2 linked regions of the Homo sapiens genome follow. The protein of the gene in region 1 interacts with the protein of each later gene in a pairwise test. Each region holds a gene or a part of one and is shown in the gene's direction. Other genes may lie near its edges. The genes, in order: RASSF6 and STK3.

Region 1 (3,843 bases):
CAGAGCCTTGGAATACTTGGAGATTGTGCATATAAATAAAATATGTGGAAATAAATCCTTACTTAATATCTCTATCCGTTTTTAAATATGCATCTGGTGACATTCTTTCTTACTTATTTTGAAATCTTAAACTGCACTAAAGAGGGGTGTAATTGTCCAGTGAAAATGTTATAAGCATCCTCAAATGGTGTTTTACCTAATTTACTCTAGAAACAATATAAAGCTGCTTAAAAGAACACATAATATTCAAAAACAACAAAGAAAAACAAACAAAAACAAAACAAATTTTTTAAATTAATGACCTTGGATTTTTTTTGCCCTATAAGAAGATTATGTTCAAGATATTGAATACCCTTAATATAATATAATTTTAAAGACTTATGTGACAATTCTTTTTCTAGACATCAATTTTCATTCCAGCCTTTGAATCAGAAACTAAGGTCAGAGTAAACAGTAACATGAGAACTGAAGAAGTAATAAAGCAACTTCTCCAAAAATTTAAGGTAACCTTTATCACTTAACTGAGCTATAAATATATTATATATAATTCAACTATAAACACACAAATCCACTCTTCTGAAACAGATCTATAAAGGTGTAAATCTAAATTGGATGTTGAGCACTGAAAGATTCTTTCCTTTGTATAACACCTTTTAGTAACTATCCCTTGAAAAATTATATAATTCCCATAAGAGCAGAGAAGATTTTATGTCTAAAAGTGAAAAATGGAAGAGAGAAAACAGACATGATTTGGGTCTGGTCAGGTTAGAAAACATCATATAACAACAAAGAATTTATATTTGTTCATTTTTTCCCTTGACAGATTGAAAATAGTCCCCAGGATTTTGCTCTTCACATTATTTTTGCAACAGGAGGTAAGAAAGCTTGATCACACTTTTTACCTGACTCTAGAGTGCTACAGTTTGCTGCCCAGGGGGAAGGCAGAAGAACAGTTTGCCTCATTCTGTGGAGAAAGGGGAGGAATGGGTAGGAGAAAAGGAAGGAGTGGTCTTTAGAACATTATCTATAGTCCACAATTTTAAAGAAAGATAACTTAAGAATAAGGTATCCCTGAAGGGTTGATTATATGAAAGAGTTTGCTTGTTGGCCAGACATTAAATTATCTAAATGGAGATCAAAACCCTCTGGAACTGTTTCGGCACTTTTGTCTTTGCTCACCTCTGTAACTTTCTTTTTGGCTTTCCTTTCTGAGTGTTGCTCTTAGAGGAGTCATGATTGCATACCTGTTCTCTCTGACATTGATATTGCCTCTTTTTTAGCACAGGGTCTGACACATTGCGGGAGTGCTATCTCTTCCTCAGTAGAGATGCATATTCAGAACTTCGTGGTGAGGGGTGAAAGGTTAGAAGCAGAACATTGGGAAGGCGCTGTAAGTGGGATGCTAGGAGCATAATAGAGAGAATAGAGAAAACTTAAAGTGATACTGAAATGAAAGTTTTTAAAACTTCACAAATGAAAAATTTTATATATCAATTTGTAGAAAAAACTCATGCTATAATTTAAGTGTCAGAATGTTCAAGCCAGAAATTTATTAGAATAAAATAATACATTTTGATGCCAGAACACCTTAAGAAAATGAAAGCTGTATCTCTAAACATATATAAAATTAAAGTTCTTATAATTGAAAGCTTAAAGATCTATAATTAAAGACTTAAACGTTAGACCTAAAACCATAAAAACCCTAGAAGAAAACCTAGGCATTACCATTCAGGACATAGGCATGGGCAAGGACTTCATGTCTAAAACACCAAAAGCAATGGCAACAAAAGCCAAAATTGACAAATGGGATCTCATTAAACTAAAGAGCTTCTGCACAGCAAAAGAAACTACCATCAGAGTGAACAGGCAACCTACAAAATGGGAGGAAATTTTCGCAACCTACTCATCTGACAAAGAGCTAATATCCAGAATCTACAATGAACTCAAACAAATTTACAAGAAAAAAACAAACAACCCCATCAAAAAGTGGGCAAAGGACATGAATAGACACTTCTCAAAAGAAGACATTTATGCAGCCAAAAAACACATGAAAAAATGCTCACCATCACTGGCCATCAGAGAAATGCAAATCAAAACCACAATGAGATACCATCTCACACCAGTTAGAATGGCAATCATTAAAAAGTCAGGAAACAACAGGTACTGGAGAGGATGTGGAGAAATAGGAACACTTTTACACTGTTTGTGGGACTGTAAACTAGTTCAACCATTGTGGAAGTCAGTGTGGCGATTCCTCAGGGATCTAGAACTAGAAATACCATTTGACCCAGCCATCCCATTACTGGGTATATACCCAAAGGACTATAAATCATGCTGCTATAAAGACACATGCACACGTATGTTTATTGCGGCATTATTCACAATAGCAAAGACTTGGAAGCAACCCAAATGTCCAACAATGATAGACTGGATTAAGAAAATGTGGCACATATACACCATGGAATACTATGCATCCATAAAAAATGATGAGTTCATGTCCTTTGTAGGGACATGGATGAAATTGGAAATCATCATTCTTAGTAAACTATCGCAAGAACAAAAAACCAAACACCGCATATTCTCACTCATAGGTGGGAATTGAACAATGAGAACACATGGACACAGGAAGGGGAACATCACACTCTGGGGACTGTTGTGGGGTCGGGGGAGGGGGGAGGGATAGCATTAGGAGATACACCTAATGCTAGATGACGAGTTAGTGGGTGCAGCACACCAGCATGGCACATGTATAGATATGTAACTAACCTGCACATTGTGCACATGTACCCTAAAACTTAAAGTATAATAATAATAAAAATAAAATAAAATAAAATAAAGATCTATTTTTTGGAAAATTCTAAGGACACATATATATTCATATTCTAGTTGTTTAGGAAAGAAAGAAAACCAAAAGATATAAAATAAATGGTAGCAATACTGGACTGTGTAACAATTTAAAAGATACAAATAGTAGATTACAAAGAATATTGTCAATGTACTCCAAAGATTAATAACTATAATACCAATAATTTCCTACAAAATGGTAACAAAACAACAGACAATCCGATAAAAATAGAAAAAAGCATGAAAATACAATTGAAAGGAAAAACCATAATAACCAGTTAAATAGTTTTAGAAAAGTCTTAAATTCAGTGAAATGCAAGTAGCTAAGGAAATGCAAGCTCAAGCCACACCGTAATATTATCTTGCACTTCTCAGATTGGCAAAATGCTTTAAAATGATTCTACCCATGGCTGGCATGCATCAGGGTAAAAAGATATTTTTATGCAACACTAGTGAAAATATGACTTTCTTCTTATTGGAATTTATTCTTGCAATATTTATTAAAATTTACAGTATATATGTCCTTTAACTTGACCATTCCATTTGTGAGAATCTATCCCACAAAAATATAAGCACTAGTGCCTACAGATTTATGTGTAACACTGTTTATAAGGACAAAAAGCTAAAGACAAAGTTACTCATCCTAGGGAAATGATTAAATAAGTGATTGTTAGGCTGCCATTGAATGGAATGAGTAGATTTATGCCAATAGAATGGAGGGAGTTCCATAATATATTTTAAGTGAGAAATGCAAGATGCCTAAAGGTATATATAAAAGATCCCATTTTTTAAACAGTTACAAGCTCCCATTTAAGTATGTGGTATATATGGTCTTATGACTAGGGAGAAAGGTATGGAGTGATAAATACAAAACCATTGAGATAGATTACCTGGTGGGGGATTGGGGAAATGCAGATGAGAGGATGAGAAGGGGGGTGTCAGGCACGGTGGCTCATGCCTGTAATCCCAGCACTTTGGCAGGCCGAGGTGGGCGGATCA
Region 2 (2,621 bases), on another chromosome or scaffold:
GAGCCCAGAAGTTTGAGACCTTGTGTCAAAAAAAATAAGAAGAAGAAGAAGAAGAAAAGAAAACCAAATCTGGATTACTCTTACATAACTGTCCTACTCCAGAATTGATCATGGCTTCCTGCTTTTGGGGCCCCACCAGGCCTATTCAGCCTTACTTCCCGCCCCCTACCACAGTCATCTTCTTTATTAAGCATTTAGTAAAATGGAGGATAGAATGGTTAATTTAACCTTTATTCAGTCTTGTCACATTCTTGAGTGATCTCTGCAAGTGTTCATGATTATTGTAGCACTCAGTAGCTGGCAAAGATGTAAAAAGTTAGAGTGAATATACCTGGAACATATTCTGAAAATCTGTTTGTTGGCAGTGGTGGATTTGTCTTTGTACCTTTTTACAAATTCCATCAGCGTATTTTTCTCATTTGCCCTTTATTAAAGGCAGAGGATCGGATTGCTTCATTGCAGATTACTGGAGGTTCTTGCAAGATATGACCTCTGAGTTCTTCAAGGAAGAAATTCCTGTTTTAATTGTTGAACTATACTTCAAAGATGATGTAAAGAATTTGCTGAAATATTTATGTTAAAACTCATTAGACATTAAAGTCTAATTTCATTGTATTGATTGTGGATAATGTGGATAATTTCATTGTATTGGTATCTTTCTTTCTGTATCTAGTTGAAAAATCTAAGTTTAGAAGAACTACAGATGCGGTTAAAAGCACTGGACCCCATGATGGAACGGGAGATAGAAGAACTTCGTCAGAGATACACTGCGAAAAGACAGCCCATTCTGGATGCGATGGATGCAAAGAAAAGAAGGCAGCAAAACTTTTGAGTCTAATTTCCTCTCTGTTTTTAACTATTCTGGAGACCAAGAAACCACTAGGAATTGAAGGAATATTTGGATATTTTTAATCCTAAGATTTTGCCCTACAATTAGGCAGAGGTCAAAAAGTGACAATGGTACATGCCCAGGTAAATTCCCAAAAGGCAGAATTGACAGTTGTATCTGCTGTGCATTCACTCTAAGATGAGGAGAACAAAAGAAGTGTATTCTCTTGTTCTGTCAGCTGCATACCAGTAATAAAACTGTTATGAAATGGATTTTCAAGGTCTCTAAACCTTGAAAATCCAAAGCTATTGTTGCATTGTACAGCACTGAAGGGCTTTATGTTACAATATTCTTTATTCCTATCTAGTATACTAGGCTATTTATTGTATCCCCTTAGGTAAACTTATTTATTTATGCTATTTTGCTTTGTTTCATTTTTTAAGGACAAGATCAGGATAGCTTTGGTGAAGGTAGGGTCATATTAATATGATGATAATGTGCAACCAATTTATACTTTCTGCAGGGAGCTATGGGGTACATTCCTTGATTTCCAGGATAGTTTTTCAAATAGGAAAGCAATAATGGCAGTAGTTCTCAAATGGGCTAGGCCTTTTTTATATTGAAGCAATAATTCCATTTTTACCCTTTGAAATTTTGTTTTTTTGATTTTTGATGTTTGGTACAAATAGAACTATATATATTTAGGTAAAATAGATCTATCGTGTTTAAAACCAAAGAAATCAATGGAACCCTTGCACAAAAAAGTGTGATAAATATTTTTAAATAAAAACTTAATACAAATGTAATTTGTTAATATTGTTTCATGTTTTATGTGTAGATCTAATAGCTGAACTGATTCAAACTGTAATAAGCTCATCAATTTCATTTCTATGAAAATGTGCTCTGTTGTCACAGGATGTTTCTGTTGATTTTATTCATTTCCTGGGAATTGGTAAACATCATGTTCCTGATGATAACCCAGTAGCAAAAACATTTGTACTGAGTGGTACAAGCCTTGGGGACTGAAAAAAAAAAGATTAAAACCATTAAAAAGAAACTCATTTTTACGCTGAATGAACATTTATATGATTGCATTGGGACCAGTCATTTCCTAAGCTACATATGGCCATCTTGACAGTGTTTTTTCTTTTGTGTGTTTAATTATTATGTGTAAATCATAAAGACAAATAAATTTCACTGTGCCACCCAGCATATTTCGTTTCTGTATCTTTGTTAAAACTCATGACCTGGACTCTGCATTTTCCAAGCAAGGGACGTATATTAGTTAGGACAGGCTAGATTATGCAGTGCTGACAACCCTCACCCTTCAGCGGCTTCACATAATACAGGTTATTCCTCACTCTTGCTCCAGGCCCACCCCAGTTTGGCAGGGCGCCCTGCTCCTATCATCCACACCCAGGGACCTGCTGACAGGGCCTCAACCATCTGAGATATCTGTGGTCACCACAATAAGGAGAAGGGGAGCTGGAGAGTTTCATACTAGCTCCAGCCAGTAGTGATACATGTCTGGTTGGCCACAACCCAGTATTCAGAATTAGTCACATGGACACTCCTAACTTCGAGGGAGTCAGGAAGAGTAGCATCACCACGTAGCTGGAGGGGAGAGAACAGGAAAAGCTGATGAGTTCACTAATGTCTGTCACAGAAGGTATATTGTCTCTGGAAAGCTTCCATTCCTTTTTAAAAATGGTATTTGTACCCTAGGTAATGCCTCAAAGTGTCATTTGTCTCTACCCTGTTGAGCCCTTACAAATAATAATAAATTGTATAA

Evidence for each region.
Region 2: the proteins of RASSF6 (region 1) and STK3 interact in binary tests that used the Homo sapiens proteins (3 or more experiments, as listed by UniProt).

What each region holds. Positions count from the first base shown.
Region 1 is NC_000004.12:73,578,849-73,582,691, reverse strand, and holds part of RASSF6 (ras association domain-containing protein 6), read left to right. Parts: exon of another isoform or gene 1-86; intron 87-401; coding exon 402-503; intron 504-823; coding exon 824-875; intron 876-3,843.
Region 2 is NC_000008.11:98,454,053-98,456,673, reverse strand, and holds the end of STK3 (serine/threonine-protein kinase 3), read left to right. Parts: exon of another isoform or gene 1-435; coding exon of another isoform or gene 436-489; exon of another isoform or gene 490-673; coding exon 674-832; 3' UTR 833-2,041; downstream 2,042-2,621. UniProt on the Homo sapiens protein: Stress-activated, pro-apoptotic kinase which, following caspase-cleavage, enters the nucleus and induces chromatin condensation followed by internucleosomal DNA fragmentation.